3 separate regions of the Homo sapiens genome follow, and regions 1 and 3 are each linked to region 2. Evidence: fine-mapped expression QTL. A gene starts in region 2. Each other region holds a variant in brackets. All regions are shown on one strand. Distances are from middle to middle.

Region 1 (8,179 bases), 32 kb after region 2:
CCCGAGTTTAAGGGATCCTCTTACCTCAGCCCCGCTAGGAGCTGAGACTACAGGAGCATGCCAACATGCAGCGATAATTTTTGTATATTTTTTGTATAGAGATGAGATTTCACTGTGTTGACCAAGCTGGTCTCAAACTCCTGGGCTCAAGCAAGCTGCTCACCTTGACCTCCCAAAGTGCTGGGATCACAGATGTGAGCCACCATGCCCAGCCCTTCATGTGTGTGTGTGTGTGTGTGTGTGTGTGTGTGTGTGTGTGTGTGTGTAGAGAGAGAGACAGAGACAGAGACAGACAGAGTCTTGCTCTGTCACCAGGCTGGCATGCGGTGGCACGATCTCTGCTCACTGCAACCTCTGCCTCCCAGGTTCAAGCAATTCTCATGCCTCAGCCTCCAGAGTAGCTGGGATTACAGGCACGCACCACCACACCCAGCTAATTTTTTGTCGTCTTAGTAGAAACGGGGTTTCACCATGTTGGCCAGGTTGGTCTTGAACTCCTGACCTCAAATGATCCTTCTGCCTCAGCCTCCCAAAGTGCTGGGATCACAGGCATGAGCCACCATGCCAGCCCTTTATATATTTTTAAGTAGTCTGATACAACACCATTTTGAATGACCACATGCTATTCCATAGGGAAAGTGCCATGGCTGATTTGACCATTCTCCTGTTCTTGGCCATTTTAAGCTGCTTCTAGTTGTTCATAGTTATAAATGTGAGGTAGGCTTTAAAGGACCTGGATACAGGTACTGCAAGTAGCAGTGGACAGGTGGGAAATCTTCAAAGAGTTCCAAGCAGCTAGAGGCAGAGACCAGATGGTGGCTGGCCGGGGGATGGGGGCTGGGATAGGCAAAGGGAACCAAGAACACCAGGCCAGAGAGGAGAGTTTGGGATGGGCGGGAGCAAGTGGAGCCTTAAGAGAATGCCGTGGGAAAGTCAGAGGCTTCAGCCACAAGTGGGAGGAGAAATTTTCAAGGAACTGAATCAGCTAGACAAGGCAGAGAGAAGAATAAGGAAGCTACTATAAAAAAAACAAGAAAGTTCAGGAAGAAAGGGTGGAGGTTGGCCAAGGGCTGTGTGAAGGAAGAGGAGAACCAACCAGAGATATTAAAGAAATGAAGATGACAGGATGGGAGCTTCCAGGTGTTTGGCATGTGATTAAGCATTGTGCATTTTCAAGTATAAATTTTTAATTTTTTTTCAGTCACCTTGATTAAGGATGGCAAATGCCAACGGAAATAAAAAATTTAAAATGTATTTTTCAAGTTTCACAAAACTAAGTAAGTGTAAAAGAAATTCAAGTAAGCTTTCATTTATGGCTTTTTTTCGTGTGTGTGTGTGTGTGTGTGTGTGTGTGTGTGTGTGTGATGGGATCTCACTGTGTCTCCCAGGAATAGTGCAGTGGCATGACCATACCTCACTGCAACCTTGGCCTCCCAGGTTCAAGCCATTCTCCTGCCTCAGCCTCCTGAGTAGCTGGGACTACAGGTGCACACCACCACATTGCCTAATTTTTTTTATTTTTTGTAGAAACAGGATCTTACTATGTTGCCCAGGCTGGTCTTAAACTCCTGGGCTCAATCGATCCTCCTGCCTCTACCTCCTCAAGTACTGGGATTACAGGCTAGAGCCACTGCACTCAGCTGGCTTTTTTTATATGTTTGTAGTACTTGTACTTTCACAGTTATTAAAACTTAAAACTGCTCTAGGACTTTTGGGATACTCTTTAGTAGCTTTTAATTCTCACATACCCCTCTGCAGCAGGTGCTATTGCTGTCCTCTTTTTGCAGCGGAGGAGACGGAGTGAGGGATAGAGAAGCAGAGCCCACATGCAGGCAGCTCCTTGCCTCTGCTTCTTGCCCCCACATGGCTCTGCAGACTTAGGGGAAAAGATGAATTCAGGTTGGGGACTTGTTGGGACAAATTAGATCAAAGAATTACTGGGATGTCAAGGTGGGGATATCCAACCAGAAAATAGAAAACTCAGTCTGAAACTTGGAATAGAGATTTGAGTAGTTGAAGCCTTGGAGGTAGATGAGGTCACTAAAGTAGTGTGTGAAAACAGATTAAATGGGTGGAAATTCCATGAGTCGGAGTCTACTCTAACACCCTCAGACAAAGCCCGTCATCTCTTCCCCTCAGGCTGCAAATATTCTCTCCTAGGGCACTCCCCACAGCCATCCCTCTCCTGCAGACCCTCTTGTTATCCTGGGAAGGGGATAGGGTCCCATGTGAGCCAACCTGGACAGCAGTGCATATGATCATATACAGTCTTCCATCACAACATCCTCAGGCCATCTCTCCCAGGCTCTGCTACTGCCTCCCGTCTTCTTTCCTGGGCACTGGGACTCCAGAATGTCTGTGCCAAAGGAACACAGGTGTGTCTGCATCAAAGGGAGGAAGGCTGTCAAATTTTTTTTAAATTAAAATTGTCAAATTTTTTTAAAAAATTTTTTTCTTATCTGCAGTGCTCAGCACCGAGGCCAGGCCCTATGCTGAGCAGTGCAGATTTAAAAAAAAAAAAAAAAAGACAAATGTCTGTCCCTGCCCTCAAGGAACTCCCAGACTGAGGCAGAAACAGACACACAAGGTGAACACTTCAGTGTGCTATGGTAAGGGCTGTAGAATGAGGAGCCACATGGAGGAGAGGGACCTAGCCCTGGGTGACGGGCAGACAGGCAGGGAGGGCTGGTCAGTACTGGAGATGGCACTACCCGCTGTGGCCTGGTGCTCAGGGGGACAAAGCCCAACTGTGTTGTGCAGGGCTGGGCACCTCAAACCCCTGCCAGACACATCACATCTCTCCTGTCCTTCTCTCTCCCCCTCAGGTTCAGGTGGGTCCCAGTCACAGATGCCTATTGGCAGATTCTCTTCTCCGTCCTCAAGGTCACCAGAAACCTGAAGGAGCTGGACCTAAGTGGAAACTCGCTGAGCCACTCTGCAGTGAAGAGTCTTTGTAAGACCCTGAGACGCCCTCGCTGCCTCCTGGAGACCCTGCGGTGAGTCTGGCCTGGGTTCTGTTCTGAAGCAGGGATGGGGAAGAGATCCAAGGCAGAAGCTGAGTCTGGGCTGAGGGATTTGTCTTTGTATTTATCAAATATTCGTTGAGGCCTTCTCTGGCCGGGATGACTTTAGTAAACAAACACAGATAGGATTTTTTGCTCATAAAAAAAAAAAATTCCTTCATGAAGTGAGGTTTGAGGGAGGTCTGAAGAATACAGAGGATTTAACTAAGCAAAGCAGGAAGGAAAAAGTTCCAGGAAAAGAGAATAGCATGTACAAAGGCTCTGTGGAGAAGGCAGGAGGAGGCAGTCAAGAAACTGAAAGCAGGCCAGTGTGGCTGGAGGGCAGATAGCAAAGGGTTGAGATAAGGCTACAGATACCAACAGGAAGTAGACTATGCCAGGCTTGTGCACCATGTTGGATTTGGGTCTTTTCCTGATGGTGTGGAATTTTAAGCAGAAGGTTGACAAGATCAGTACATTTTCAAAATAGAAACTGGCTGCAACATGAAAAATGGATTGGAAGAGTGCAAAAGTAGAGGCTGGGAAACCAATTAGTAAGAAAATTGCAGTAGTCCCTGCAAAGATGGTAATAGTTTGGACTAAGGAAAATTATAGTACTTTTAAATGTCACAGATAGTCATAGCTTGGACTATGGTATTGGCAATGGATATGGAACAAAGTGGCTAGATGTAAGAGAGCTATAAAAGTAAAATCAACTGGGCTCAGTAATGGATTGAATTTAGGAAAAAAAGGAAGAGGAAGATATCAAGGATGATTTTAGGTTTCTGACCAAAGCAACTCATGGGATAGTGGCATCTTCATCAAGATGGGGAATACTAAAAGAAAAGTGATTGGGGGGTGGAATGTCATGAGTGTGATCTCGTGCTTGCTGGTTTCAAGATCCTTTCAAGGTATCCAACTGGACCTGCCAAATAGGT[T/A]TCAAATAAAGCTCTATCCAAAGATAAGATCGCCCCATAAAACAAATCTCAACAAATCTGCAAGGACTGAAATCATACAAAGTATATTCTCTGACCATGATAAAATGAAATTAGAAATCAACAATAGAAGGAAAGTTGAGGAGTTCATAAATACACTGAAATTTAAAAACACACTCCTAAATAACCAAGGGTCAAAGAAGAAATCACAAAGGAAATTAGAAAACACTTTGAGAGGGATGAAAACAAAATCACAACATGCCAAAATGTATTGGATGCAGCTAATGCAGTGCTTAAAGGGAAGTTTATAGTTATAAATACTTCTATTTAAAAAAAAAAAAAAAAAAAAAAAAAAAAAAAGGAAAGATAGAGCCAGACATGATGGCCCATGCCTGTAATCCCAAATCTTTGGAAGGCCAAGGCAGGACAATTGCCTTAGGCCAGGAGTTTGAGACCAGCCTGGGCAACATAGAGAGACTCTGTCTCTACAAAAACATAAAATAAAAAATTAGTTGAGAATGATGATGTGTGCCTGTTGTCATAACTACTTAGGAGGCTGAGACAGGAGTCTCACTTGAGCCCAGGAGTTCAACACTGCAGTGAGCTGTGATTATGCCATTGCACTTCAAGCTGGGCAACAGAGACAGACCTTATCTCTAAAAAAATTACTCAAAATTTTTTTAATTAATGAAAAAAAGAAAAGATACCACTACATACTTATCAGAATGGCCAAAATCCAAAACACTGACAACACCAAATGCTGACGAGGATGTGGAAAAACAGGAACTCTCATTCATTGTTGGTGGGAATGCAAAATGAGACAGCCCCTTTGGAATACAGTCTAGCAGTTTTCTACAAAACAAAATATACTTTTACCATAGGATCCAGCAATCGCATTCCTTGATATTTACCAAAATGAGTTGAATACCTCTGTCCACACAAAAACCTGCACATGAATGTTTATGGCAGCTTTGTTCATCATTGCCAAAACTTGGAAGCAAGCTGCCCTTCAGAAAGTGAATGGACTCATAAATTGTGGTACAAACAGACAATGGACTATTATTCAATGCTAAAAAGAAATAAGCTATCAAGCTACACAAAGATATGGAGAAACTTTAAATGCATGTTACTAAAAGAAGCCAATCTAAAAAGGCTACATGCTGTATGCTTCCAACTATATGACATTCTGGAAGAGGCAAAAACAAGGAGATAGTAAAAAAGATTAGTGGTTTCCAGGGCTTGGGGGAAGGGAGGAATTAATAGAGCACAGTAGAGTTTTAGGGCAGTGAAACTATTCTATATACTGTAATCGTTCATACATATTATTTTACAGCAATCAAAATCCATAGAATGTACACCACCAAGAGTGACCCCTAATGTAAACTATGGACTTTGGGTGATGATGTGTCCATGTCAGTTTATCAATTGTAACAAATGTCACCACAATATACTAGTGTGGTACAGCATGTCAGCAGTGGGAAAGATTGTATGAGGGATGTGGGGACAGGGAGTATATGGGAACTCGCTGTACTTTTTGCTCAATTTTACTGTGAACCTAAAACTACTCTAAAAAATAAAGTCTATTGAAGAAGAAGAAAAAGAAGAAGCAGAGAAATCTCAAATAAGTAACCTAAACTTACACCTTAAGAATTTGTTTTCCTTAGGTCTTTCATGTTAGTAAAGAAATTTTTTTAAAAAGCAAACAAAACCAAAAGCAAGCAGGGGGAAAGAAATAATAAAGACTAGAGTAGAGATAAATGAAACAGAGAATAGAAAACAATACAGAAAACCAATGAAACTAAAAGTTAGTTCTTTAAAAATACCAACAAAATTTGACACCTTTTAGCTAGACTAACTAAAATGTAAGAAGATTCAGATTACTAAAATCAGAAATAAAAGATGGGGTATCACAATTGAACTTACAGAAATAAAAGGATTATAAGTGAATATTATGAAATATTGTAAGCCAACAAATTAGATAACCCAGATGAAATGAGCCAACTTCCAGAAAGACACGAATACCTAAACTGACTTAATAAGAAATACAAAATCTTAATAGACTTATAACAAATAGAGATATTGAATTAGTAAGTTAAAAACTTTCTATGAAACAAAGCCCAGGCCCAGATGGCTTTACTAGTGAATTCTACCAAATATTTAAAGAAGAATTAACACTTATATTTTCAAACTCTTCCAAAAATAGCAGAAAAGAGAACACGTGCCAATTTGTTCTATGAGACCAATATTACCCTGATACCAAAATTAGACTAAGATAACCAAAAGCATCACAAGAGAAAAAAAAAAATCTGCAGGCCAACATCCTTTATGAATATATATGCAAAATTACATAACAAAATACTGGCAACATATAAAAAGGATTGTAGACCATGACCAAATGGGATTTATCCCAAGAATGCAAATTGGGTTTAACCTAGGATAATTGATCAATGTAATGCAAGATGTTAATAGAATAAAGAACACAAACCAATGATTATCTCAAAGACACAAAAAAAGCATTTGACAAACCCTCAACACCTTTTCACATTGGAAACACTCAGCAAACTAGAAATAAAAGGGAACTTTATCAACCTGATAAAGTTGTTACCAGTAAAAAAACCCACAGCTAACATTATACTTAATGGTGGATGACTGAGTGCTTTCCCCCTAAGATTAGGAATAAGACAAAGATGTCTGTTCTTGCCATTTCTATTCAACACTGTACTCAAGGTTCCATCCAGAGTAATTAAGCAAGAAAATGAAATTAACAGCTTCCAGATTGAAAAGAAAGTAATTAAACTATTATTTGCAGGTGACATGACATTGTATGTAGAAAATCCTAAGGAATCTACAAATATTAAAATTAGGGCCAGGTGTGGTGGCTCATGCCCTGTAATCCCAGCACTTTGGGAGGCTGAGGTGGGTGGATTGCTTGAGTTCCGGAGTTCAAGACCAGCCAGGGCAACACGGCAAAACCCTGTCTCTACCAAAACTACAAAATATTAGCCGGGCGTGGTGGCACACGCCCACAGTCCCAGCTACTCAGGAGGCTGAGGTGGGAGAATCGCTTCAGCCTGGTAGGCAGAGGTAGCAGTGAGCTGAGATTGTGCCACTGCACTCCAACCTGGGTGACAAAGGGAGACCCTGTTGAAAAAGAAAAAAAAAAAAAACTAATGATTTCAGCAAGGTTTCAGGAAACAAGATCAATATACAAAAATTAGTTGTGCTGCTATACACTAGCAATGAACAATCCAAAAATTAAATTAGGAAAACAATAAATTTAACAAAAGAAAACTTGTATACAGAGAACTACAAAAAATGGTTGAAAGAAATTATGTAAGACCTAAACAAATGAAAAGATGTCCCATGTTCATAGATTGGAAGACTTGATATTATTAAAATGACAATACCCCCCAAACTGATCTATAGATTCAACACAATCCCTAGCAGAATCCCAGCTGCCATTTTTGCAGAAATGGACAAGCTGATTCTAAAATTCACGGGCAAAAATAAGATTGCATGTCAAGCCTGGGGAACACCCCCACCCCAGTATTTAATGGCCAAAGAAGAGCCAACAAACAAGCCTGAGAAGGAGGGGCCACATAGATGAAAGGGACACCAGGAGAGAGAGGTGTCATGGAACCCAACAGAGCAGAGGGTCTCAAGGAGGTCAGCAGGGACTACTGCTGCTGGGAGGTCAAGATAAGGACTGAAATTTGTCCATTGGATTAGTGATAGGAAAGTCATGAATAACCTCAGCAGAAGTACCTTATGTGGCATGAAGAGGCGAGAATGCAGACTGGAGTGCATTAAAGAGGGAGAAGGAGGTAAAAAATGAGACCACAAATATACTTTCTTCAAAGACTTTGATAGTGAAAAGGAGGAAAGCACTAAAGCAGAGGGGATGGTGGGCTGAGTAAATGTGTGTGTCTGTCCATCTGCTTACTTGCATTTAAGAAGGAAAAGATCTCAGTTTGAGAATCAGTGAGGAGGAGTGATAAAAGACACAAGAAGGAGAAGGAGTCATTGATGGCTCTCTATCCTCAGAGGGAGGAGGGAGGAGAAAGATTGGCCTTGGAAGAGGGAGGAAATGTCTCCTTTACTGTAACAGGAGGGGAGATGAGGACAGGGAAGAGAGAGGTAGGAACATAGGTTTCACTCTGAGAAGCTGAGAGGTTCCCATCTGATGGCTTCATTTTTCTCTGAGAAATAGGAATTGAGTTGTTTGCTAGGAGTGAGTGTGAG
Region 2 (8,179 bases):
GTCAAGACCAGTCGATCAGAGGGGAACCAAGAACTGACTTCAGAACCCCATGAGGCAATGCCTGGGACACGCTTAGAAATAGGTGGGAGGAGAGGAATTTCAAGGAGGCTGATTTCAAGTTATCCAGATCTTGATTCAAGTCATAGTAATTTGAACCTAAAGAGAAGGCCTCACTGTACTCTGCTGGAGTACTGGCCATACAGATATTCCTCATGAGTTAAGTTTTAATTGAAAATAGCATGACTTGAATAAAAGTGAGTTTTAATGTGTTCCTAAAATGCCTCAAGGAAAGGAAACAAAGGCCCAAAGCACCAGAAACAGGGATAATTTTAAAAATTCAGGCTCAGAGAGCGCCAGTGGGTCCTCTCCACCAAACCCATGAGGCTGCTTCAATTCTCAGAAAGTACTTGAGTGCCATCTAGTGGCCAGAGTGAGTAGCTGTTTGGAAGGATAAGAAGGAAAGCATTAAAGGAAAGCGTTCAAAAGACATTCAATGTCTGTGGTATTGATTGTGCTGACATTGTGGGCCAGGCACTGATTTAGGCATAGCGGATACAACAGCGAACAAAACAAGCCAAGTCCTGTCTCCAGGGACCTAACATCCTATTGGCAGGAGGGGGTGACAGAAGGTAAACAAATAAACAAGTCTGTAACGTCAGGCAATAATAAGTGTCATGCGGAAAAATGAAGCACGGAATGAAGGAATTCTACTTTACAGAAGGTTGGATAGCACACCTCTGAATATCTGGGGAAACCATTCCAAGACAATGGAAAGACTAGTGCAAAGGCCCTGGAGTGAGAGTATTCTTGGTGTATTCAAGGAACAGGGAAAAGACTAAGAGGATCCAGTGAGGGAGGGGGATAGGGTAGGATATAATGCCGGAGAGATATCAGGGGCTAGATCATGCAGCCCCCGGGAACCATTGGGAGGGCTCTGGGAGATTTGGGGAGTTGTTGTTGTTGTTGTTGTTGTTTGGTTTGGTTTGGTTTGAGACTGTGTTTTGCTCTTGTCGCCCAGGCTGGAGTGCAATGGTGCAATCTCGGCTCACTGCAATCTCTGCCTCCCAGGTTCAAGCAGTTCTCCTGCCTCAGCCTCCTGAAGGAATACGGCGTGCGCCACCACACCCGGATAATTTTTTTTGTATTATAATTATTAGAGATGGGATTTCACCATGTTAGCCAGGCTGGTCTTGAACTCCTGGCCTCAGGTGATCTGCCCGCCTCAGCCTCCCAAAGTGCTGAGATTACAGGCATGAGCCACTGTACCTGGCCGGATTTGGGAAGTTTTTTAATATTATGTCATAGGGACAGGGTCTTGCCATGTTTCCCAGACTGGTCTTGAACTCCTGGACTCAAGCGATCCTCCCACCTCAGCCTCCCAAAGTGCTGGGATTACAGGCACGAGTCACCACACCTTTGGTTGGACTTTGGTTTTTACTCAGAGTGAGATGGAGTATGGGAAAGTTTTGAGCTGAGAAGTGACCTGACCTAATTTATGCTTTAAGTGGATAATTCTGGCTTCTAGACTGAGAGTAGACAGTAAAGGGGAAGCATCAGCATGGGTGGAGAACATGTGGAAGGCTAGCACAGTGATCCCAGTAAGAGACGACTGAAGGCTGGACCAGCAGCCCCAGTGGGCGTGGTGGGAAGGGTCAGGTTTCTGATCTATTTAACAGGTTGAGTGGATCTCCAGCGGCCAGTGATTTAATGAATTATGCCTGTGAAGTGAAACCTCCGAGAAAACCCCACAGTCTTGTTTGTTTGGGGTTTGGAGAGCTTCCAGGTTAGTGAAGCAGGGAGGGGCAGGGAGAGTAGGGTGCCCGGGAGGGCAAGGAAGCGCTGTGCCCCTCCCCCACCCACACCTTGACCTCGGCATCTCTTCCGTTGGGCTATTCCTGAGTCGTATCCTCCATCATGAACCGATAATAATAAATAAAGTGCTTTTCTCAGTCCTGTGAGTCATTTCAGCAAATTATTGAACCTGCCGGGGACTGTGGGAACCCTTGAATTTGTCACCAAGTCAGACAGAGATGCCAGTGGTCTGGGCACCCCATTTGCAACTGGCATCTGATATGAGGCCAGCTCTTCACTGAAACCCTAAACCTGTGAGGTTTGATGCCAACTCCAGGCAGTCAGTGTCAGAATTGCACTGTAGGACACCAGTTGGTGTCTAGAGAGTTGGTGCCAGAACTGGCTGGTGTGAGGAGGAAAAAAAGCCCACACAGCCCTCCTCCAGGCCATTCCTCCCGCTACATGGAGTCTCACGGTCCTTCACGGAGTGCTCAGAGCCTCCCGATCATCCCACTTTTAGCACAGCACTTTTCCACTTCTGGTCAATCTGATATTAGAATGTCCTACAATGTGCTTATTAGCCATTTTTTAAAACTAACATTTATAAAATTTATTTAGGCCAGGCACGGAGGCTCACACCTGTAATCCCAACATTTCGGGAGGCCGAAGTGGGCGGATCACCTCGGATCAGACTGGCTAACATGGTGAAACCCCATCTCTACTAAAAATACAAAACAATTAGCCAGGCGTGGTGGTGAGTGACTGTAATCCCAACTGCCCAGGAAGCTGGGCTGATGCAGGAGAATCGCTGGAACCCAGGAGGTGGAGGGAGCTTGCAGTGAGCCGAGATCTTGCCACTGCACTCCAGCCTGGGAAAGAGAGAGAGACTCTAAGACCTTTTGCTGAATTGAAGCCTCTTGGTAAACCTATGATGTCCCATTTAATAGATGGGCAAACTGAGGCTCAAAGAAATAAATCAGGCACATAAGGAGTCCTTGTCCAAGCAAGCCGTGGGTTGAAGCCTGGGCTCTGCCAGTCCAAGTGAAACCAAAGCATCTCCAGAAATTCCTGGTGGTGTGTTACATCAGCAAATGAGTAGGCAATGTCATTCCTCAACCTGAAGTCATTGGCATCTTGCAGATTCCACGAAAGAGGAAGTCTGCCCCTGGCTCCCCGAGGCCTGCTTGCAGGAATGAGGAAGGGGCTGTTCTGCTTTCAGGTGGAAATGTTCACCAGCTAAGTGCTGGGCTGCCCAGAAGGCAAACAGCCCCCTGGGCCTGGGACACATGCTTTAGTGCCCCTGGTAGCATGGCAGGACATGCAGTGCAACTCAAGAAGCTCCCAAAACCATGAGAGGCTGGGAAAAATGCTCCCTGGCCCAGTTCTAATGTTTCCCAATAAGGAGCTGCCCGGGCAGACACAGGGGGCCCCACCCATCCTGAGAGGCTGGGCCTGGGCTGCAGACACAACTGCTCGGAGAGTCTGCATCCTGGCTCTGCAGACAGGCTCTAGATGATGGGCTGGCGGAGTGCCCATGTGGAGGTGCACACACCGTGTTTAGTATGGGCCTGTACCTGCTGCAGCGTCAGCTGGTCTGGGCCTGTGCTCCTGGTCCGCCTATAGATGCCATGTGGCCCATCTGAATCTGTGACTCTGAGTCTGGCCTACCCAGGCCTGGTTTGATCCTACCCCCTGGCCACGCCCCTTGTGGGTTTCCTCTGGGTGACGTTTCCTTCCTGCTCTTGTTGACTAGGCGCTGTTCTTGCTGGCTGGTGCCCCAGGGCCTGGAGAGGTCTGAAGAAACCTGGGAGCCAGCAGCCCGGGGCTCCACTCTGGGTTCTGAAAGCCCATTCCCTGCTCTGCGGCTCCTCCCACCCCACCTCTTCTCAGCCTTGCAGCTCAAGGGTTGATCTCAGGAGTCCAGGACCCAGGAGAGGGAAGAATCTGAGGAACACAGAACAGTGAGCGTTGCCCACACCCCATCTCCCGTCACCACATCTCCCCTCACCCTCACCCTCCCTGCCTGGCCCTGGACCCCATCCCAGGACCTCCCTATCAGCTGACTTCTTCCAGTGTCTTGCAGGCCCCTCTGGGCTCCTCCCTCCCCTGGCTTTTCCTACCACTCCCCCTCTATCGGCGTCTATCTGTAGGTGCCCTGGGATTTATAAAACTGGGTTCCGAATGCTGAATAAGAGACGGTAAGAGCCAAGGCAAAGGACAGCACTGTTCTCTGCCTGCCTGATACCCTCACCACCTGGGAACATCCCCCAGACACCCTCTTAACTCCGGGACAGAGATGGCTGGCGGAGCCTGGGGCCGCCTGGCCTGTTACTTGGAGTTCCTGAAGAAGGAGGAGCTGAAGGAGTTCCAGCTTCTGCTCGCCAATAAAGCGCACTCCAGGAGCTCTTCGGGTGAGACACCCGCTCAGCCAGAGAAGACGAGTGGCATGGAGGTGGCCTCGTACCTGGTGGCTCAGTATGGGGAGCAGCGGGCCTGGGACCTAGCCCTCCATACCTGGGAGCAGATGGGGCTGAGGTCACTGTGCGCCCAAGCCCAGGAAGGGGCAGGTGAGTGGACAGAGGACCCCACTGCCCGCGGGACATCCCCTGGCCCTCATGCCTGCCCTGCCCTCTTGGGACCCCACCACTGAGCCCTCCCTGCCAGGCCTTCCTCTGAGCAGTGACATGGAACTGCCCTCTCAAAGGGGGATCCAGGCCCCAGACTATGCTGGAGCCAGGAGGCTTGCTGGGGGGGCCCTTGCTGCACCTCAGAGCCCCACACCCTCTTCTATTCAAGTGCATTCCCGGTACTCGCCTGGCATTGTAGTTATGAGCACGGACTTGGGAGTCAGGCACTATCACCAGTCCTGGCACTATCACCCTGGGCCAATCACTTCACTGCTCTCTGCCTATTTCTCTGTCTGCAAAATGGGAGAGTGAGAGCCCGCCTCCCTGGGCTGTGTGAGGGTTAAAAGAGATCATCCAGGTTAAACATTTAGCACAGAGTCTGATATACAGTAAGTGCTCAATAAATAAGATCTCCCATTGCTGTTGTTGCTGCTGCTGCTGCTGCTGTTATTATTACTATTAGCCACCCTGGGTTGCAGATGCCGTTGGCCCAATAAAGCACAGCTGAGGCTCAGTAGGAGTAGTGATTTACACAGGGAGATAGTCAGGACCAAGACAGATATGCAAATTTCCTGATCCTAGATGAGGATTTTTTGCCTAGCAGTATCTATAAGAACATCATTCTTCAGACAAGCCTCTAGAGGAAGTTGTAGAGGGCTGCAGCGGGTTCACTGGTGTATCCTGACCTCTCTTGGTTGAGAGAGGAGACCAGCTCAGTTCCCTGGCACCTTGCCCCTGCCCCTCTGATGTGTCTCCAACCTCTTTGTCTCTTTCCTGTAGGCCACTCTCCCTCATTCCCCTACAGCCCAAGTGAACCCCACCTGGGGTCTCCCAGCCAACCCACCTCCACCGCAGTGCTAATGCCCTGGATCCATGAATTGCCGGCGGGGTGCACCCAGGGCTCAGAGAGAAGGGTTTTGAGACAGCTGCCTGACACATCTGGACGCCGCTGGAGAGGTGAGGCTTGCTGAGGCAGGCTGACAGCCCTGGGTGGAGCTGTGAATCAGCTGGTGGGCCCCACCCAGAGGATCATGTCTGTGCATGGGGACCTGACATGGGGGACAGCAGAGGAAGGATAGGGGAGCCAGGATGGGCTGTGAGAGGTAGGCCTGAAATTGATCTTTCAGGGACCTTCCGGTGCTGAGATTGCATCCCTCCCCATGTGGCAGATGGGGAAGCTGAGACCCATGTGGGTCAGGCAATGAGTCTTCCCCAACTGGGTGCCCAACTCGTGACATGGTCCTTGCCCGAGAACTCAGCTCATAATATTGATGGGCTCTGAAGATCCTTAGGGTCAGGGTGGTCCAGAAGTTCCAAGGAGGACTCTGTTTTCCAGACAGACCCCAAGAAGAGGCTAGGCTTAGTCCTCGGCCCAAGCCAGCTCCCTCACATGACTTCTCTCTTCACTACTAAGAGAATAAAATTGCCCCTCTACTTCAACATGGTTTTCAAAATAATATTATTAAGACCCATCTCTCAGGACTGTTGTGAGAGTTTAAAATATATGCACCTAAAAGAAAATAAATGTTCAGTAAATGGTTATTTTTCTTTTCATTCCCCCCAGAAATCTCTGCCTCACTCCTCTACCAAGCTCTTCCAAGCTCCCCAGACCATGAGTCTCCAAGCCAGGAGTCACCCAACGCCCCCACATCCACAGCAGTGCTGGGGAGCTGGGGATCCCCACCTCAGCCCAGCCTAGCACCCAGAGAGCAGGAGGCTCCTGGGACCCAATGGCCTCTGGATGAAACGTCAGGAATTTACTACACAGGTGAGACCCTACTGAGCTCCTGGCGGGGTGGTGAGGTGGGAGAGGCAAATGTATGGACAAAGAGTCCCCTGGGGACCAGGTTGGCAGGCTAAGCAGAGGTTCTGGAAAACATCTGAAATTTCCCTCAGGAAATCCCACCCTTGGAGCCTCTCCACTGGTCCAAGGCACTGTTTCCAGGAGGCACCTGGACATTAAAATACAGATGTGTTACCCAGCACATCTGGGGGACAACAGAGCAAGGAGAGGGGAGCCTGGATGGGGTTACACATCACCTGGTTTACTGGACAGGGCACTGGCCTGGGGTCAGGAGAGCTGGGTTCAATTTCCACTGAGCTCCTCACCCCACAAGTGGCCTACAGCTAGTCCCATGCCCATCAGTGCTCACTGGACACTCTCTGGGTTAGACCATGTCCAGGGCTTTACGTGTACATTGGACTTAAATTTTACAACCACTCCGTGAGATAAATATTGCTATTATCATACCCTGGAGATGAGAAAACCAAGGATTAAAAAGATAGTCTCACAGTTAGTACTAGCAAAGATGGAATTCAGCCTTCACTCTCTCTCACGCAGCAATCCACACTTTTAACTCTTACACAGGGAGTGCCCTCATCTGGGCAATAAGGACAGTCATACTAAAGCCACAGGTACAGAGGCTCCTGATGCCACAGGTTCCTTAACCACTGAACCATGCTGCCTCTCAATGCCGGAGGATGCCTCCTTTGAAATCTGAGAGGTTTTAAGTTAAAAGGATTTCTTCTGCACCCAGCAAGGAGTGAACTTGTAGATTTTGTGGTCGTATATGGCCTAGGCTCAAAGTATATCAGTTTACTTAATTACTCACACCACTTGCCATTCAAAAAAAGAAGCCATGTAACAAACCTGCACATATACCGCGTGAGTCTAAAATAAAAAATAAATAAACTCATGTTTTAAAAATCTTGATAGGGTATATAAGGAAAGATCAACATTCGAGTTAAACTAAGGAAAACAGAAAGTCAAGAAAGGAAGATTCTAATACTTTAAGTTGTTTCTTTCTATATTTGAGAATCACAAAGATAACTTTTTCTCAGAATTATTTTGTGAATTAAAAAATCCAAACAATAAAGACAATTAAAACTGAAAAACAGAAAAGAAGGAAGATAGGAAGAATATAAAGACATATCAGAGCCATCTATAGAAGCATAAAAATGCAGTAACTTTAAAAGTGAAAAAAACAAGTATGAAAACCACAAAGACTACCTCATTGCTATAAATAAAGTTTCCATCAATTGTGGGCATTCTAGCAACACTGGCAAAAGGGGAAATATAATGGGTTACACAATACCTGTTACTCAATAGAAAAGACCAATGCAAGGGAAATAACATTTTTCCCTGATTCTAAATTCTAAGGGAATTCTTCAAATAGGGAACTTAAAAAAAAAACAACAACAAACTTTTATTTTAGTTTCAGAAACACATGTGCAGGTTTGTTATATAGGTAAGTTATGTGTCACAAGTGTTTGGTGTACAGATTATCTTGTCGCCCAGGTAATAAGCATGGTACCTGTTAGGTTGGGTTTTTTGTTTGTTTTTGTTTTTGTTTTTTGTTTGTTGTTTTTTGTTTTTTGTTGTGTTTTGTTTTGAGACAGAGTCTTGCTCGGTCACCCAGGCTGGAGTGCAGTGGCGTGATCTCCACTCACTGCAAGCTCTGCCTCCCGGGTTCACGCCATTCTCCTGCCTCAGCCTCCCGAGTCGCTGGGACTACAGGTGCCCGCCACGAAGCCCTGCTAATTTTTTGTATTTTTAGTAGAGATGGGGTTTCACCATGTTAGTCAGGCTGGTCTCGAACTCCTGATCCGAGGTGATCCACCCACCTCAGCCACCCAAAGTGCTAGGATTACAGGTGTGAGCCACCGCGCCCGGCCCGGTAGTTTTTTAATCCTTACCCTTCTCCCACTCTTCACTCTCAAAAGGTCCCAGTGTCTATTGTTCCTTTTATGTGTCCATGTGT
Region 3 (8,179 bases), 84 kb before region 2:
TCTCGAAAGCACCCTAATGGCCAAGGGAGTTTTTTCATGGCAGAGTCTGAGGCCTAAGCCATGGCAGGGTTTGATTTCTGCACCAATGATTCTTCTGCAGCTACCAGAGCAGGGCCACCTCAGGTAGGGGGCACTGGGACCTTGTATTTCCTTCAAAGGGCAAAAAGGCCTCCTTGTGCCCAGTGCATGACCAGGAGCCCTCATGCACAGAGACCCCCACGCTGAATTTCAGGCTGCGTCTACACAGCCAAAGCTAGACCAGTCCACAGCAGCCCCTTGCCCTGGGCTTTGCACAGCCTTAGAGCAGCCCCTTACCCCGCCCTAACCTCTCCAGGCTCTTGCCTTTAACCTCATGCCCTGTTTGACTTAAGGCTGTTTAGGGGCAAGTGATCAAGCTGGCTTAAGTAAAAGAAGGAGTTCAGAAAGAGCTAGCTCCAGGCATGGCCGTATCCAGGGTCTCAAATATGTATTATTCAACAAATATTTATCAGTACTTCTATGTTCCAGGCACTGTACTTGGCATACAAACCAAACACCTGCCCTCATGAAGACCAAGACTGCATAAGAATGTGCATTCTCACCTATGTCTTCCAGTGGGCACAGCCAGATGGCCCCTCTGGCCACAAGTGGCTGTAGCAGCAGCTCTTGAGATACTATCCTTCCAGGTTCAAATCCACCACAGAAGAGTGAGTCCCAACAAAAGTCCTTAAAACACTAATTAGACATCTAAGGGTCAAGCTCCCACTGCTGAAGCAATCACTGTGGCCAGGGAAATGGGATGTGGTGATTGGCTGGGGCCCTGGCCTCATGATTCATTCAGACCATTGAAATGAGGCTGGAGGACAATGTGGCCAAGGAAGGGAGTGAGTGCTGGGGAGCAACAGCAGATGTCTTCTCCATTCCCCCTGCCCAGGGTCTCCTTGCCTGAGGCTCATTCTCCTCTCCAAACGAGCTCCTCTGAGAAGCTGAGCAGGCTGCATTGTGCTCTCCTTTCTTCTCTGGTTTCCTCCCAAAAATAATAATAATAAAAATGTATACGGGTGTGCAAGCTACAGTTTACACACTAATTTCACATCCATTGTTTCACCCTCTCCAAATGATCCCTGTGAAATTGTAGGTGCTATAAACTGAAGGCTTGTGTCCCCCTAAAACTCATATGTTGGAGCCCTAACCCCCAATGGGATGGTATTTGGTGGTGGGGCCTTTGGAAAGTGATTACGGTTAAATGAGGTGATGAAGATGGCACCCTCATGATGGGATTGGTGTCCTTTTAAGGAGAGAGCTTCCTCACTCTCGCCTTCACCCTGCATGCACACAAAGAAAAGGCCAGGTGAGGATGCAGAAGGCAGCCATCTGCAAGCCTGGAAGAGAGCCCTCACCAGAACCCAGCCATGATGGCACCTTGATCTCAGCCTTCCAGCCTCCAGAGATGTGAGAAAATAAGTGTTTATTGTTGAAGCCACACGATCTGTGATATTTTGTTGGGGCAGCCTGAGCTGACTAAGACAATAAGGTAGGCTCTAACCTCTTCCTGTCCCAAGCCCCTCCAGGACTGTCTAGAAAGGCAACAGGGTTTTGAGAAAAGGCTTCTGTGCTATGTAACCTGGAGTAGGATGACATAAAGGGAATTCCAGGCTGATGGAAGGGAGGCAGGTGAGGGATACGCCCATGTCTCACTCTGCACCCTACTGCCTTGGACTCTGATGCAGGGACAGGAAGGACTTCCCATCCCCTCCCTTTTTTTTTTTTTTTTTTTTTTTTGAGACGGAGTCTCACTCTGTGGCCAAGGCTGGAGTACAGTGGTACAATCTCAGCTCATTGCAACCTCTACCTCCTGAGTTCAAGCGGTTCTCCTGCCTCAGCCTCCCAAGTAGCTGGGATTACAGGCGTGAGCCACCATGCCCAGCTAATTTTTGTGTTTTTAGTAGAGACCAGGTTTCACCATGTTGGCCAGGCTGGTCTCAAACTCCTGACCTCAGGTGATCTGCCTGCCTCGGCCTCCCAAAGTGCTGGGATTACTAGCGTGAGCCACCGCACCCAGCCCCCATCCTCTTCTCAGGCTCAGCGCAGGAGTGAGAGTCAGGACTGGCCACTGACTTGGACATCGGGACACCTGATCTCTAGTCTCTGCTTTGTCCCTGACTTGCTGGGTGACCCTGCAGGTGTCTTCCCCTCCCTGAGCCTGTCTCCACTTCTGTAAAATGATGAGTTGGGATGTTGTACACACAAGGTCCCTTCCAGCTTGGAGTGCTGGTCTGTGCTCTGGAGCCTCTGAGGAACTGGGACAGCAGAGAGCCATGCAGAGCAGATGGGTGCCCAGGTACCTGACCCTGGCATGCTCCTCCTTCCCTTCACTCAGGGCTCAGGGGAAGGTGCAGCCCAACAACACCAGCGAGCTCAGCATCCATTTGTCCCCCACAGGTTCACCCAGCCTGACCTGGGTCGAGCCACTCGTAGAATTTCCGATGGTTAGTCATACTTTTTTGAGTAAATATCATGGTAAAAAGACATGACATTTCCGGGGCCAGTCTTCAGCATTAATAAAAGATTCCAAGAACAGGGTGACCTTTTCACAAAGGATTTGTAAATGCCAAAAACTATATAAAACCTCTCTTTCTGAGGCAGGCAGGATTGTCACAGCTCAGCATTTATTCCCCCACATGTGAGGCTGGCTCTGGTTTCTCCCAGTTCTATGTGCTGGCAGGTGAGAAGCTGTGAGCACTGTCTGAGGGAGGAGGAGCGAGGAGGAGCAGGAGGGAGGAGAGGAAGGAGAAAGAGAGGAGGTGAAGGAGAGGAAAGATGGAGAAGAGAGAAGAGGAAGAAGAGAAAGAGAAGAGGAGGGAGAAGGAAGGAAGGAGGAGGAGAGGAGAAGGAGGAGGACAGAGGAAAAAAGGAAAGGAAGAGGAGAGGAAGAAGAGGATGAAGGAGAAGGAAGAAAAAGGAAGAAGAGGGCAAGGAAAGAGAAAAGGAAAGAGGAGGAGTAGGAGGAAGAAGAGAAGAAAGAGGAGGAAGGGAGGAGGAGGAGTAAGAGGAGAAAGAGAAAGAGGAGGAGAAGTAAGAGGAGGAGGGGAAGGAAGACGAGGGAGAAGACTAGGAGGAAAAAACAAGGAATAGCAAAGTGTAGGGCAGGGCCAGCCCTGGAAGCAGCATGGGTGGGTGAGGACCTCTCAGTTGCTTAGGAGGCCACTGAGAATGAAGCGTCTAAAGTGCCATCCTTCAACCTCCACCACAGGACTGTCTGTCACATCTGAGCGGGTCAAGCAAAAGGTGGCTCCTGACAGCAACCAACCAACGCAGTGAGAAATAAAAAACGTGTCTTCCCATGGAAGTCCTAGGCTATGCTCCTCCCGATGTGCATAGGATCCCAAATACTCACTCTGTTGCTAGCCTTCCCCCATCCGTGGTCCACAGAACCTCAGGGGAAGGCAGGCAGCACAATGTCTGCAAAGAACACAGGCTTTGGGGTCACACTCACCTCGTTCTGGGCTGGACTCTTTCCAAGCTTCAGTTTCCTCATCTAGAAAAAAGACCTCCCTCTTAGTAGTAGACGGATGGTGCCAAAACATTACCAGGTGCAAACTGAACACTAGGAGGAGCCGTCCCTACTAGGGTGCCCAGCTCCAGCCTTCCTTGTGGTCCTTCTCATTGGTACAAATCTCCAGTGCGTGGGCAGGCATGGAAGCCTGAGTGCCTTCAGAAGCGGATTTTGCTTCTCAGGCCAGAAAATTACATCAAACTCTCCCCACTCCCCTCTCTGGGGCAGGGACCTGGGAGGAGAAGGAGACTTCCCAAGCAGGGAACCCTCCATGTGGAGTATTGCCTCGGCAATGAGCAGCTCTAGACAACTGCTCCCCATACCACTTGCGGCCTCTGCTTGGCTGGAAGCTTGGCTGCCCCTTTGCTGGGTTCATTGTGTAATGGTGCTTGACAGATCCTAATTTTCTTTTTAAAAGACATGCATTATAGCAGAGGACAAAATAACACCCATCAGTGACATGAGGCAATTGTCCAGTTAGTGAGGATGGAGTGGGTTTCCCTGCCCGGCTCAAGTGCTTGACTGATGAAGAATTTTAGAAAGGGGTCCGCAAAGAGCTTTTCAATTTAATGATCATATTTTCAGGGCTATTG[A/G]TGGGCCAGGCCCTGTGCTGAGCAATGGGGAAGTCCACATAGAGAAGCCTGGTCCCTGCCCTTTATAAGCCCTGAAGTAATGAAAGATGAGTCCTTACCACAGCCCTGTGGATTAGGTCCCATGAAATGAAAGCCCAGAGAAGGTTAGAGATTTGCCCCAAGTCACACAGCTCCCTAAGGCAGAACGAGGACTAGAGTTCAGATCTTTGCCTGTTGGACCACCACTCTTTAGCCCGTCCTGTGGGAAGTGAGCTCCAGACTGATTCCCAGTTGTCTTTCAGGTAGGATGGCACAGTGGTTAAGAAAGCTGATCTCTGGAATCAGACAAACTCAGTGTTTTCTGACAATTGTTATACCAAATCAAGCTCATTTCCTGTTCTGGTGGAAGGAATGTCACTTGATTCAGTGAGGCGGTTGGCAACATCTCCCACGTCATCTTTGTGGACAAGGTGGAGACATGGGGACTAGGTGTTGCTAGAGTTGGGAAGATTCCTACAGTCGATTCCTTGCTCACCCGGCTAATTCAACTTCCATGGGGTGTGGCTAGAGAGAGGCAATTAAAGATGACTCTGGGCCAGAAGCGGTGGCTCACGTCTGTAATCCCAGCACTTTGGGATGCTGAGGCGGGTGGATTACCTGAGGTCAGGAGTTCGAGACCAGCCTGGGCAACATGGTGAAACCCCATCTCTACTAAAAATACAAAAATTAGCTGGGCGTGATGGCAGGCGCCTGTAATCCCAGCTACTTGGGAGGTTGAGGCAGGAGAATTGCTTGAACCCGGGAGGCAGAGGTTTCAGTGAGCCAACATTGCACCATTGCACTCCAGCCTGGACGACAAGAGAGAAATTCCATCTCAAAAAAAAAAAAAAAAAAGATGATTCTGGATGAACCTGGAGAAAAGTCTCTGCCTGCGTGGGCTTTCTTTGCTCTTGGCTTCATCATCACTATCATTCATTCATTCGATATACATTCATCAAGCACTTGCTACTCCCAGCCTTACACCAGGCGGTGGGGGTATAATGGGGTGCAAAACAGATGGAGTTCCCGCCTTGAAGGAGTTTATAGTCTGGTGGGAAAGACAGATAACTCAGTAAGCAGTAATCACTGAGGGAGGCCAGTTACCCAGTGCCATGACTGGAGGTGGGTCTCATAAGAGCAAGAGATGGAAGCCTATCCTGGGGGTGGTGGGGTGGCAGGGAAGCCATAATCATATGTGAAAGGTGAGTTAGCCAGAGGAAGGGGGTGGGGTAAGAGCGGGTTCCTGCCAAAAAGGATAACGTGTGCAAAAGTCCAAGTTTCAGAGGAAGCAAGCGTGCTGCAAATGGACCAGTATGGCCAGAACATGGACTGGGGGATGGATGCGGGGAGCCATGAGGCTGGAGGAGAGAACCGGGGCCAAGTCTGGAACTGCCTGGAACTCAGGCTTCATCTTGAAATCCGGAACGATGCATTGAAGGATTCTGGACAGAGTTGCCATGGTCAGGTTTGTCCTCTGAAGAGAGCTCTCCGGCTGCTGTTGGAAAGTGGGCTGGAGGCGAAAAGCCTGGAGGCAGGGAGTACAGGTCAGAGGCTCTGGGAGCAGCCAGGTGAGAGATTGGGCTGGACACGCATGGCACTGGGGGTGAAAGAAATGGACAACTTCGAAGATATCAGAGAGTAAAAAAGACAGACTTTGGTGACTGAGGGGGGCGCTGCGGGGGCTGGGAAGGGGTCCTGGCCGTCACAGTCCCCACATAGCACGAAAAAGGGAGAAGCTGTTGGGCCTGGCAAAGGTGCATAAGTCCAGAGGTCAGAAGCAAAATCATGTCCACTGGAGTGAGCCTGAGGAGGGAGCACCAGGAAGACACATCCAAAACAGAGCATGGGGGGGGGGCCTGCATGTGCTGAGGGAGGAAGCCAAAAAGGGTCAGAACACCAGGGAAGGGGATGTTAGCAGGGAAGGCCAAATTGGGGAGCAGGGAGCATTGCTCTGAGCCCCCTAGCCAAGATCCCGCTGCCCTTTTGTGTAGGGGTTAGGAAAATGCCAAGGGGCCAGTGCAGGGGACAGCTGAGGATGCCACTCACAGGAAAGGCTGGCAGCTAAAGTGACAGTCCACACTGACAGAGCCAGAGCGTGAAGCCTGCACTGAGGCTGGATACCCAGGCGCGGAAGTCTTAGCTCACAGCTGCTCCCACGGGGCGGTCCTGGTGTCTCCATCTGACTGCAAGGTCTGTGCGAGCCGCCAGCCGCATGTGGCTGCCAAGAAAGCAATTGCTTTCTCTGACTACATTAATAGGAGTTTAGTGTCCGGATCAATGTGGCTAAGAGTCCCGCTGCACTCAGCACTTGTCAAGTTAAATCTGAGCTCAAGACTGTAAGGAACCTGCGTGGTTCAGACACTTCCCTTGGGGGCTCCTCAGGCCCCGGTCTAAAAAGCCGATGCTCCTCCTTTTGGGTGACAGTGACCCCACTCCCACGTCTGCAGGGCCTACCTCACCTGGGAACGTTCCACCTCCAGCTGGAATTGCCTAGGAGGCTCTGAAACAGGCAGGAGTATAGGTCCAATTGTTGCCGGATCACCCTATATTTTAAGATAAAATTCAGAACATCGGATTTATATGTGAAATCTAATGATTTTAAAATACCGGTCCAAATGTCTTTTGTTGTTGTTTTTGTTTTGTTTTGTTTTGTTTTTGAGACAGAGGCTCACTCTGTTGCCCAGGTTGGAGTGCAGTGGCGTGATCTCGGCTCACTGCAACCTCCGCCTCCTGGGTTCAAGTGATTCCCGTGCCTCAGCCTCCCAAGTAGCTGGATCTACAGGTGTGCACCACCACTCCTGGCTAATTTTTGCATATTTCATAGAGATGGGGTTTCACCATGTTGGTCAGGCAGGTCTCGAACTCCTGACCTCAGGTGATCCACCCACCTTGGCTTCCCAAAGTGCTGGGATTACAGGCATGAGCCACCTTGCCCGGCCTTGTTTTTGTTTTTGATAGAGAAAGGGGCTTGCTATGTTGACCAGGCTAGTCTGGAACCCCTGGCCTCAAGTCATCTTCCCACCTCAACCTCCCAAAGTGCTGGGACTACAGGCGGGAGCCACCATGGCTTACCCATCCAAATGTTTTTAAAAACCCAGTATAGGCTAAACACGTCTGTGAGCTGTATCAAGCCTATAGCCTCCAGTCTGTGACCTCTGAGCTAGCCAAGACCTCCGTTTTGCAGGTAAGGAGAGCAAATCTCAGAGCACACAGCTCAGCACCAAGCTGAGCTTATCAGAAGCAGGCCCTTCCTTTGTTTTTCTCCACAGCCACACCCTGTACCCCATCCTCAAGTCTTAGTCCCTCATACCTGAGCCCCTATCTTTGTGTCTAGGATCTTAGCACCTCTGAAACATTGTTGAGCTCCATCCTCCAGAGACCTCTAGCATTGTTCTGATCCCAGCCTACTTCTGAGGCCCTTTCCAGCTCCCAGATCTGTCTCCACATTCTGCCTACGGTGTGAGTCTCTTGGTGTGCCTGGAGAGCCCAGGCACCCACCCACCCCATGCCTGAGCTCTCCTGATTTCTCATGTTAGTTCCTTATTGCTGCTATAACTTAGTGGTTTAAAATAACACAGACAGATTATAGTTCTGGAGGTCAGAAATCCAAAGCAGATCTTACAGGCTAAAATAAGTGTCAGCAGAGCTGCACTCCTTCTGATAGTTGTAGGGGAGAATTCGTTTCCTTGTTTCTTCAGCCTTATAGATACTGCCTGAATTCCTTGGCTCATGGCCCCTGCCTCCGCCTTCAAAGCTCCTCACTGGAGCCTCTGCCTCCGTCATCGCATCTCCTCTCTGATGCTGAACCTTTGCCTCCCTCTTACAGGGACCTTTATAATTACATTAGGACCACCTGGATAAGCCAGGACGCTCTCATCCTGAGGTCCTTAACTTAATCATATCCGGAAAGTCGCTTTTGCCATCCTCACGGGTTCCGAGGGTGAGGATGTGGACATCTTTGGGGGCCATTATTCTGTCTACCATACTCCTCATCCTTCAATCTGAATGCTTGCCCTTCCCAAAATATCTGTGA

Alleles and levels. Alleles are on the strand shown, and positions count from the first base shown. SD is a standard deviation of normalised expression in the study named. Not every link is listed here.
In carriers of allele A in region 3, the expression in gastroesophageal junction of the gene that starts at base 3,536 in region 2 tends to be lower than with G alone (moderate effect, 0.50 SD a copy in GTEx).

The links. PIP is the estimated chance that this variant, and not a neighbour inherited with it, causes the effect.
Region 1: its variant is the best candidate, but not a certain one, in a credible set for the expression of NLRP1 in whole blood (INTERVAL, PIP 0.59).
Region 3: its variant is the best candidate, but not a certain one, in a credible set for the expression of NLRP1 in gastroesophageal junction (GTEx, PIP 0.80).

Annotation. Positions count from the first base shown.
Region 1 is chr17:5,548,203-5,556,381 of GRCh38, reverse strand. It overlaps NLRP1 (NLR family pyrin domain containing 1), which reads left to right. Exons shown (of 17, transcript NM_033004.4): 5 at 2,826-2,996. It overlaps LOC105371507 (a long non-coding RNA gene), which reads right to left. Exons shown (of 3, transcript XR_007065589.1): 2 at 2,239-2,381; 3 at 1,784-1,876. Among named protein-coding and RNA genes, the nearest start is that of NLRP1, 32 kb to the left of the region's middle. The variant T/A (reference allele first, on the strand shown) is at 3,941.
Region 2 is chr17:5,579,866-5,588,044 of GRCh38, reverse strand. It overlaps NLRP1 (NLR family pyrin domain containing 1), which reads left to right and starts at 3,536. Exons shown (of 17, transcript NM_033004.4): 1 at 3,536-4,358; 2 at 5,199-5,375; 3 at 5,983-6,186. The coding sequence starts at 4,088. RefSeq lists enhancers at 3,148-3,447, 3,468-3,727, 2,999-4,198.
Region 3 is chr17:5,663,487-5,671,665 of GRCh38, reverse strand. No RefSeq gene overlaps it. Among named protein-coding and RNA genes, the nearest start is that of NLRP1, 83 kb to the right of the region's middle. The variant A/G (reference allele first, on the strand shown) is at 4,129.